Homo sapiens: one gene and its partners. The protein of the gene in region 2 purifies or fractionates together with the protein of the main gene of each other region. This does not show direct contact. Each region holds a gene or a part of one and is shown on either strand. Other genes may lie near its edges.

Region 1 (2,590 bases), on a different chromosome or scaffold from region 2:
TTTTCTTTTTTTTCTGAGATGGAGTCTTGCACTGTCACCTAGGCTAGGGTGCAGTGGCACAATCTTGGCTTACTGCAACCTCCGCCTCCCAGGTTCAAGCAATTCTCCTGCCTCAGCCTCCTGAGTAGCTGGGATTACAGGCACGCATCACCACAGCTGGCTAATTTTTTGTATTTTTAGTAGAGACAGGGTTTCACCATGTTGGCCAGGCTGGTCTCAAACTCCATGATCTGCCTGCCTCAGCCTCACAAAGTGTTGGGATTACAGGTGTGAGCCACCACGCCCGGCCCATGAATAAGTACTTACTAAGTCTCTGTGATTTGGGGGTCATTACAACAGACTGCCTGCTCAAACACAGTGACAGAAAAAGAGGCACCAGTTTCTGTATCTACAGGGAGCAGTTAAGTTTATGCGCAGGGAGCAGTTAAGTTTATGCGCAGGCAATGGGAATGATACTGTAATCTTGAGAATAAATGCAATCAATGAAAAGATCACCTTATGTAGCCCAAGGAGTTTAGTCTCCTTTGCTCAGACAGACAGATCTTTATTAGTGTTTTCAACTTATTTTGCTCACAACTTCCCAGCAAGAAATGTCTTACATTGCAACCAGTTCTCACATTTAGATGTATGGGTGAAAAGTTTCACAAAACAGTATTTGCCTTTACTACATGATGCATTCTGGCCTACTTTATTCTGCTTCATTGCTGTGTAATGCTGGTGACCACTTGCTAATTGATTTCCCATTTTACTAAATGGGCTGGGACCCACGGTCTGAAAACCCTGCCTTAGGCTGCAAGCATTTCTGTGATCTCTGCGAGCTACTCCATATAGGTAAACACACGCGAGGTAAACTAGGAAACAGCTTCTGCTTTTGCAGATTAGAAGTGAAGTTGACATCACGCCAAGTACGAAAAGGCTAAACAGCTGACAAAATTTCCACTTGAGCAACCCTGGGGAGCGCAAACAGGAGGAATCGGGGCAAGGGTGACTTGAAGAAAGCACTGGCAGATCACGCACTTTAAGGCAACTCTACACTGCACAATGTCAAATAACCTAGCATGGGGCGGCACTAAATGGCTGCAGGAAAGCCGAGTCTTCTTCCACATCCGGCGGCTCCCCTCGGATGCGAGCGCTGGCCCAGGGTGTGTTTACAGAGGTGAGGGCTTCCCGTGGACCCTTCTCGTTGGGAGCGCTTAGCCTCAGGAGCGGATTCAGGGCACAGGCAGAGGACGTCCACAAACACCACAGGAAGCCGCCACCCAGGGGCGTGGAAAGGCCCAATGCCTCGTCTGGGATTCACGGCCGGCAAAGCGGCCCCTCCGGAACGGGACAGCACAGCGGCTCACCTCTGCGCCTCTGGGGGTGCGGGGGGAGCCTCGCCCTCCACGCTCTCTGGGGGACCGCCCGCCCTAGCCCCCGCCTGGGCTTCGCGGGTGGACGGTTGGGGGCCCCGGGCGCCCCCCAGCGCGTAGCTTTTCTCCTTCTCGTGGGTCTTCTGGTGCTCGGCTAGGGCCAGGCTGAAGTGGAAGGTCTTCCAGCAGCCCTGACAGGCGTAGCGCTTCCGGCCGCCATGGCTGCTGTGGTGCTCCATCAGGTGCGAGAGCCACGCGAAGGCCTCCCCGCACTCGCCGCAGGCATAGGGCTTCCCGCGGGACAAGCCCGGCTCGTCAGCCCCAGGGCCCTGCCCGGCCTCCAGCCCTGCGCTGTCGCCGGAGCTAGAGACGCCCTCGAGGCTCTGCCCGTCCCCATCCTCGGGGTGCGGCCTCTTGGTTCCCAGTTTCGCCGTGCCCCTGTCCGGGGCAGGCTGCTGGATGACGGACTGCCTCTGCGATCCGGTGGCAGAGTCGGACTCCGCGTCCTGGGGGTCCTGCGGGTCCGGGGCCTTCCCAGGCTGCTCTTCCTCCTCCTCAGTGGTGCCCGACGGGGGATCGGCAAGGGCGTCCCCAGGGGGCGCCTCCGTAGGCAGCTCAGGCAGCACCCCCGCGGGGGCGGCCTCCTCGCAGGCGCACCCAGCGCTCTCCTGCCGCCTCCCGCCTTCTGGAACAAGGTCAGAGCCCTAGCGTGAGCGCCCCGCCCAGGGCCAGGGAGAGGAGGACCCAGCCGAGCCTCAGCTGCCGGAACAGCGCACAGGGCTCCGGGCTCTGGATCCCCGCGGGGCTCACGGCTGTTTGGAAGCAGCGCTGTCCCTCCCAGGCAGCCCTGCAGCGCATGCCCCGCGCCTGCTGCTGCAGATGTGGGACCTGGAGGCCTCCAACAACGGAGGCCACCGACAGGACAGGAAGGACAGCCCCACTGAGCCCGGGTTCTGGAAACCGCGCCTTTGGAGGTCTCCACCTGGCCACTAGCTTGGCCACAAGATGCACGATGCAAGGAGAGCCTGCTCAGAGCGCACCCTCCTGGAGGGAGGGGCCCGGCTGCCAGCGAAGAGAGTGGGGTCAATAGCTAAGGCCAAACCCCCCAGCGACAAGCCCCCTGGCGACAGGCACCCAGGGCCCTCCAGCCCAAGTCCGCCTCTAGGTGTTCTTGTTGGTGTGCTGGCACAGAGCCTCCAATGGGGCAGAACGGCCACCCCCGGGACCAGTCATACACA
Region 2 (3,652 bases):
AGTGATAAGAGACTCGCTGGGACCCCATTTCCTAGAGCCTCTGCCCATGGGGCTCTGAAGTTCAAGTTGCAGATGTCCTCTAGCCTGAGAGGTCAAGTCTTAGCTTCGTGAATTCTGAGAAGTTGCACTTGGCTGCTTTCAAGGATGGGGACAATGAGTGGCTAACAGCGCTCTCAGGGGCGGCACGGGGCCATGCCATGCTATGGATGGGGGTGCACTTCCCAGGGAGACGGCATGGTGGGACTGGCCCCTAAATGTCCGGGTTACTAATATGTGTTTGCATGTGTCTGTTGGTGGGGTGGGTGGGGACTAGAAGTGTAAAACTTTAGATCTGCTTTATACATATAAAGACATATTTGTACCATGTGACCCTGCCCTTTTCTGGCTGAAATTAGTCACACCGGGGTGGCCATCTGATCTCTGAGCCGGGCCAATCAATGTTCTCTCTCAGGCATCTGAACACAATGCCACAGCTTCATCCCCGGAGCCCCAGGGCCTGGGCTGCCACTTGGAGGCCTCCTGCGTTAACCTGCAAGGGGCAGATCCAACAGAGACGCAGGCAGCAGCCAGCCCACTCCGCCTTCCTTCTGCATGAGACACTCCAACACAACATCCCCTTTCCTAACACCAGCTTCTGCAGGCTTTGGTTGGTTACAACCAGTGGTTCTCAGCTACACAGGACCTACCTGGATAGACCCTTACTGTTATTATTACAATAGATCATATATGGTTTGCATGCAAAAGAGTGCTTACCAAAGGCTCTTTAATGAGCATAAAACCCAAAAACTTGTTGTTTGGAAGTAGTGTGAAGGAACGCCAGCCAGCCTGGTCACCATTCAAGGGGACCAAGGCTGAGGAGTTGACAGTGTTAGCGTGAGAGAGGCTGGCTGCGCCCTGCCCCAGTGCCCTAGCTGCCCCTCCCCATCCCCACACCCTACTCACCATCAGCGGGGCTGAGGCCCCTGGCTGCAGAGATCATGGAGAGCGTGGGGCTGCTGTGCACAGAACGGAGGTAGTGCTCCATGTGGGGGTTCACGTACGGGTGGGGGGCGTTGAAGGGGGACTCCCCAGGGCCAGCCGGGTGCGGGGAAAGCCGGATCAAGGAGATGTCAGAGATGACAGGGCTGCCGCTGAGGGCAGGGGGCCTGCAGAGACAATGGGCAGCCGTCTAAGAAGGAGGACACAGAGGGAACCCCACCAAGACCCCAAAACCAACATGGACAGTCCTTGTCTCTCCTGGAAAGACTTTCCAGAACAACCTGCACTTATTATTTGCTACACCGACATTCCCCTGGTCATCTGTGAATTACAGTCTGAACTCTCAAGCATTAGTCAGTGAATGCAGAGTGAAAGCTCCACGCTGGTGCGTGCACCCGCCGGCCAGTTCCACGCTGGAGAATGGACCTCGCACCCGCGACTGGACTTGCTGGAGCACACGCACAGCAGGCCGCCCACACGTCACAGTTGCACTGTGGCTTCCCCAGTGCCTCCTCGGGGCTAGGCACAGGCTTGCATGCTAGAAACATGTATGAAAACGAATATGAAAATACGAATACCACGGGTAAAACGCAAAGAGCTCATACTGCTAACAGGATATGTGAAAAAGAGAGGGATCAGGAGATGTCCTGCAAGTGGAGAGTTTCTGGCTTCAGTTGGATGGTTGGTTGCTGGTGTGACCAGCTCGGCCGCAGGGTCAGGATTCAAGGCAAGTTTTGAAATTGATGAGCCCTAACTAAAATCTTGGAATATCTCCTCGTTCTCCTTCCATGGAATTCCTCCTAGCGCTAACAGAACCACCCTTCTCAGATGCCCCAATAGTCAGGTGTGCATTGGGCTTGGTGCCGCTGGCTTGGGCTGGCATGGCCAGGGCCCACCCCCATGTCCCCAAGTCCGCCCACCAAGAGTCATGGAATCCATTCGATGTGACCTCAGGCCCTTATGTCAGGCCTGCTGACCTGGGGCCTCTATGCAGCTGCAGGTGTATTTTGAGGTAATCTACTCCAAAACTCACTCATTAAAGATGAATCAGACTTTATGGTGAAGCAGCTGCAAAACCACAGCTAAGTCACCAGGAACCACATTTACCAAGATTTCATTTTTATTCTTTAGTCTATAATTTGACATTGTGCAAAGAAAAGAGAGTGTGTTAGAATCAGACAAACCTGGGTTAGAATCCCAGCCACATCACACTGTAACCTCTCCGAGCCTCAGTTTCCTCATCTGTGGAATGGGGATCATAATAGTGTCTGTTTCATAGGGTTGTCGTGAGGATGAAAGTCCCCAAAACTGTGCCAGAGACATGGCAGGCAGTCATGAAAGGAGAACTGCTGTTAGAGGGTTAGAACCACACTTTGAGGGCTAACCTAGCATTGCCCGGGAGGCCCTCCCAATCTTCACACTGGATTGATGCTGGACGTGTGAAAGGCCACTGCTGGAACTGGTTATTTCAGGGAGGAAATGATTTGTCTGTTGGCTGAGCAAACCAGAGATAATTACTGATCATGCTCAATAGTGCATGAAAACTGGGCTTACAGTACAGTACAAACCAGGACCCAAACAGGTGACATCCAGATGTCCTCACATCTGGGTTTCACAAACACCCCCCTGGGAGGCCGCTGTGCCAGGCCTGGAGGGAGTCTTCCGCAGTTTGGTTGTCTAGCTTCAGCAGACGTGACTGCCCTGCTCATGTAGATCCCACGAACCTGCTTCTGCCTTTTTGCCTACACCAATCCTTGGCCTCCAATGCCTTCCTGCACCCTATACTGTGGTGGCAAACTCCTTCTCATCCCTGTCAGCCCAGCAGGTGGCACCCTCCCTGAAGCCCCTTCTCTTGGCTCAGGATCCCTTCTCTCTGCTCCCCAAGGGTGCACTGTTCCAGGCTCAAGCTGACAGGTGCATCTGCCAGGTTCCCAGGCTCTGCCTGGGAGCAGGGCATGTCCGAGGCTCTTCTGCATGCTCAGCACTTGGCATGGAACTGGCGTCATGCAGGTGCTCAGAGGTACCTTCAGAATCAGTGACAGCCACATGTCTGTGTGCCAGCCACTGAGCTCAATGGGAGGGAGACTGTGGAATAAGTCACAAGTCACAACCTCAAGACGTTCTCACTCACAGCCTGCCTGTAGAGGTGGGTGCCTCTGCATGGGAACTGCATGAAATGCGGAGGGCTTAACAGATAGCTTTAGCCTAGGCGGGGGCTGCTATGTGTGCCCGGGAGAGGAGAAGTGGGACCAGACTAATGCACCCCTGGACAAGGGCAGGTCCTGTGGGCTCCAGCCTGTGACTGCAGCAGGATGACACTCACATCCTGCCACGGGATGGGTGGGTTGTGAAGAGAAGGCTCTGAGACAACATCACGCCTCTATGGCTCCTGGGGGCAGACCTGGGCTGAAGGATACAAGTTCTGGAAGGCTGAGTGTGGCTCAGCAAAATGCAGGGTGTCTACAGGCTGAGAGAATAGCTAAGGTGCCTTCTGTCCTGACTTCTCGGTCCTCCCCAGACACTCCAGGCACGGCAGGTTCCCAGAGCCTGCAGGATGCCGGCCAGGGTTTGAGGTCACAGTAGCCTGTAATCAGATGCCGGTGGCCCTACGTGGCTTGTTCAGGTCCCGGGAATGCCAGCCTCCCTGGCACCAGGGTTGCCCTGTGGGGTGTGC
Region 3 (3,652 bases), about 98 Mb from region 2:
TTATCCTCCTGAGTAGCTGGGACAACAGGTGCACACCTCCATGCCCAGCTAATTTTTGTATTTTTAGTAGAGACGGGGTTTCACAATGTTGGCCAGGCTGGTCTGGAACTCCTGACTTCCTGATCCCCCCGCCTCAGCCTCCCAAAGTGCTGGGATTACAGGCGTGAGCTACCTCAGTGGCTGAATTCTTTATAATTTATAAAACATTTTCACATGTTATCCCACAACACACTTGAAATATAGACACACCAATGTAATAATACTCATCTGCTTTTTCTAGACTAAGTTAGCCTTCAGAGAGGTTGTATCACTAGTGATAGCACTAACACTCATCCAGAAGTCTAAGTCAGAACTTTGGGAGTCATCAGTGACTGTTCTCTCTTCCCCATTATTCCCCCACCGAAATGGTTCCCCCAGGCCCCATATATTCTACCTTCCGGTTGACTCTCAAATCTGTTCCCTCCATGGCACCATCACTGACCTGCCTTGGTTTAACGGACACCCCATTCCTCTTAGGCACCTGCATTCTTCATGTTTCTCTCTGACAGGTTCGGTTGACTCCACCAGGTAGTTGTGGATTCTATGATGGCCTCCTTATCCTTCTGTTGCAGCTCCTCACTGAGGTACAGATGGATCTTGGGATGGATGGGAAGTAAAGAGAGAGGAACTGGGCATTTTGGGGAGCCTCTGGACCAGAGGAATGAAGAAGCAACCCACAGCCTTCCCTCTCAAGCTACTGTGCCTGTGATAGCCTTGGAACTTCCCCGCCTGCCCTCAGTACTGACCCTTTGAAGGAAACCATTCGCTGCGTCCCCTGGGATCCAGTGGGAGATAAAATGAATTCCCTGGGTTTCAGCAGACATACACATGAGTTGTGAGGTCAGAGGGTTAAGGTTTGATAAGAAAATGAAATAAGACGACAGGGAAATACTAGGTGGGAAAGCGGAAGGAATTATTTCTGGGACTTCCTTTACTTGTAAGTCAGGGACAGGAATGAATAAAAGCATTTGGATTCCTGACTTCTGTCTTTCCCCCCGCCCTCTTTCACTTTTATCTCTAGCAGGGGAAGGCTAGCCTAATCAGGGATATGTCCAGTTCAGAAATGTGGACCGTTTTGTGGCACCGCTTCTCCATGGTCCTGAGGCTCCCCGAGGAGGCATCTGCACAGGAAGGGGAGCTTTCGCTATCCAGTCCACCAAGCCCTGAGCCAGACTGGACACTGATTTCTCCCCAGGGTATCTTTCTATCAGTATCCTTTTTGGGAGTGCATTGATCTCTCTTCAAGAGGAGGCAGCCCAGAACTGGGTTAACCCACAGAGGTTTATTTTTTTTGCTTTTGCCTGGGGACAGGAAGCAGTGTCTGCACTAGAGCTGCTCTAAGATGGGGAAGGGACTGAATAGGTGTAGCCCTGGGAGCTGTGGGGAAGCAGGGGTATCTGGGCGTCTTGCCTGTTCCATTGGGTCTCCATTTTTGGTGTTACCAGGCATGGCAGCCCTGCTGAGCCTGGCCATGGCCACCTTTACCCAGGAGCCCCAGTTATGCCTGAGCTGCCTGTCCCAGCATGGAAGTATCCTCATGTCCATCCTGAAGCATCTGCTTTGCCCCAGCTTCCTGAATCAACTGCGCCAGGCGTGAGTTTGAGCTAGAAGAGAGCCACAGAGTCAGCAACGGGGAGGGAGAAAGAAGAAGGCAGGAAAGAAGTTACTGACAGATTGAGCTATAAAGCAAGAAAGATGAGATCAGGTTTAGGCTGGAAACCTAAGTAGTGGCTGAGACTGTAGAAGGGGAGTTGGGCAAAGGAATTGGAGGAGGGAGGGAGGAATGATAAAGGTTAAGTGAACAAGACCAAGTCTCTTCGACATTCCTCTCCTTAGGCCTCATGGGTCTGAGTTTCTCCCTGTCGTGGTGCTCTCTGTCTGCCAGCTCCTTTGCTTCCCCTTTGCGCTGGACATGGATGCTGACCTCCTTATAGGTGTCTTGGCCGACCTCAGGGACTCAGAAGTTGCAGCCCATCTGCTGCAGGTACTTGGGCAGCTAGCATGAAGGTGGGAGAGGAAGATAGCCAACCTTGTATCCTCTAATTTACTTCCCAGCAGCTCCAGGGCTCTTCTAGGCCCCTGTAAGCATGGAACAGCTGGCTTGACTCAAAAGTTGGCGTGGAGACAGTACTCAGACCTGCGCATGTGGTGGAGGCATGTGGTGGGAGCTGGGTTGGTGCCTCCTCCTCTCCATCAGTCCATCACCTGGTTCTGTTGGTGCTCATTGGGGAGAACATCCTAGTCTAGGCACTGAAGACTCACCTCCTTGGCCAGGAATCATGTTTCTGGCAATTCTTGGCATTGCACAGTGGGTCTTTGTTCTTTTGTTGTTTCTTTTTGTTTTTTCACAGTGGGTCTTTGAAGGCAGAGACTGAGCCCTTGCAAAGTAAGGAATGATCTTGGAAAGAACCTGCTCTCTCAGGCTCCACGTTGTGTCTCATGTGGAGTGCTGTGGGGCAGGACTTCCAGCTCTCTGTGGCATTTCTCACCATAGCTTGGCTTTTCTCTCTCCCAGGTTTTGGGCTTCTTTATAGCTGCATATACTCTCTCTCTCCCTGAATCCTTTTACCTCCTGTTCTCTCAGGTCTGCTGCTACCATCTTCCGTTGATGCAAGTGGAGCTGCCCATCAGCCTTCTCACACGCCTGGCCCTCATGGATCCCACCTCTCTCAACCAGTTTGTGAACACAGTGTCTGCCTCCCCTAGAACCATCGTCTCGTTTCTCTCAGTTGCCCTCCTGAGTGACCAGCCACTGTTGACCTCCGACCTTCTCTCTCTGCTGGCCCATACTGCCAGGGTCCTGTCTCCCAGCCACTTGTCCTTTATCCAAGAGCTTCTGGCTGGCTCTGATGAATCCTATCGGCCCCTGCGCAGCCTCCTGGGCCACCCAGAGAATTCTGTGCGGGCACACACTTATAGGCTCCTGGGACACTTGCTCCAACACAGCATGGCCCTGCGTGGGGCACTGCAGAGCCAGTCTGGACTGCTCAGCCTTCTGCTGCTTGGGCTTGGAGACAAGGATCCTGTTGTGCGGTGCAGTGCCAGCTTTGCTGTGGGCAATGCAGCCTACCAGGCTGGTCCTCTGGGACCTGCCCTGGCAGCTGCAGTGCCCAGTATGACCCAGCTGCTTGGAGATCCTCAGGCTGGTATCCGGCGCAATGTTGCATCAGCTCTGGGCAACTTGGGACCTGAAGGTTTGGGAGAGGAGCTGTTACAGTGCGAAGTACCCCAGCGGCTCCTAGAAATGGCATGTGGAGACCCCCAGCCAAATGTGAAGGAGGCTGCCCTCATTGCCCTCCGGAGCCTGCAACAGGAGCCTGGCATCCATCAGGTATACCCTACAGCACTTATGAACCATGATGATCAGGGCCCCTATAGTTGACAACATTTCTCTGAGATCATCTGTAAGGAATTGGAATCGGGACATGGAGAAACTTATGCCGTGTTTCTCCCAGGGACAGTGTCTTGGAGTGAGTTTTCTAGTTACATCTCCTGCCTTGGAGGAGGGAAGGGAGCTAGAAGAGGGCTCCAATGGGCTGGGAAATGTCTGAGATCTCAAGGACCACAGTTGATCTCTTCTAGAGGCTGTGCAGGAGGGAGATGAGGGAAGACT

The links.
Region 1: the proteins of GLI2 (region 2) and ZSCAN18 purify together in Homo sapiens (affinity purification with mass spectrometry; one large-scale study listed by BioGRID and IntAct). This does not show direct contact.
Region 3: the proteins of GLI2 (region 2) and STK36 purify together in Homo sapiens (affinity purification with western blotting, with the first as the bait; one study listed by BioGRID). This does not show direct contact.

What each region holds. Positions count from the first base shown.
Region 1 is NC_000019.10:58,083,343-58,085,932, forward strand, and holds the end of ZSCAN18 (zinc finger and SCAN domain-containing protein 18), read right to left. Parts: intron 2,038-2,590; coding exon 1,343-2,037; 3' UTR 514-1,342; downstream 1-513. UniProt on the Homo sapiens protein: May be involved in transcriptional regulation.
Region 2 is NC_000002.12:120,948,736-120,952,387, reverse strand, and holds part of GLI2 (zinc finger protein GLI2), read right to left. Parts: intron 1,146-3,652; coding exon 943-1,145; intron 1-942. UniProt on the Homo sapiens protein: Functions as a transcription regulator in the hedgehog (Hh) pathway. Functions as a transcriptional activator. May also function as transcriptional repressor. Requires STK36 for full transcriptional activator activity.
Region 3 is NC_000002.12:218,695,979-218,699,630, forward strand, and holds part of STK36 (serine/threonine-protein kinase 36), read left to right. Parts: intron 1-548; coding exon 549-623; coding exon of another isoform or gene 624-656; exon of another isoform or gene 657-1,019; intron 1,020-1,060; coding exon 1,061-1,235; intron 1,236-1,484; coding exon 1,485-1,632; intron 1,633-1,875; coding exon 1,876-2,023; intron 2,024-2,623; coding exon 2,624-3,370; intron 3,371-3,652.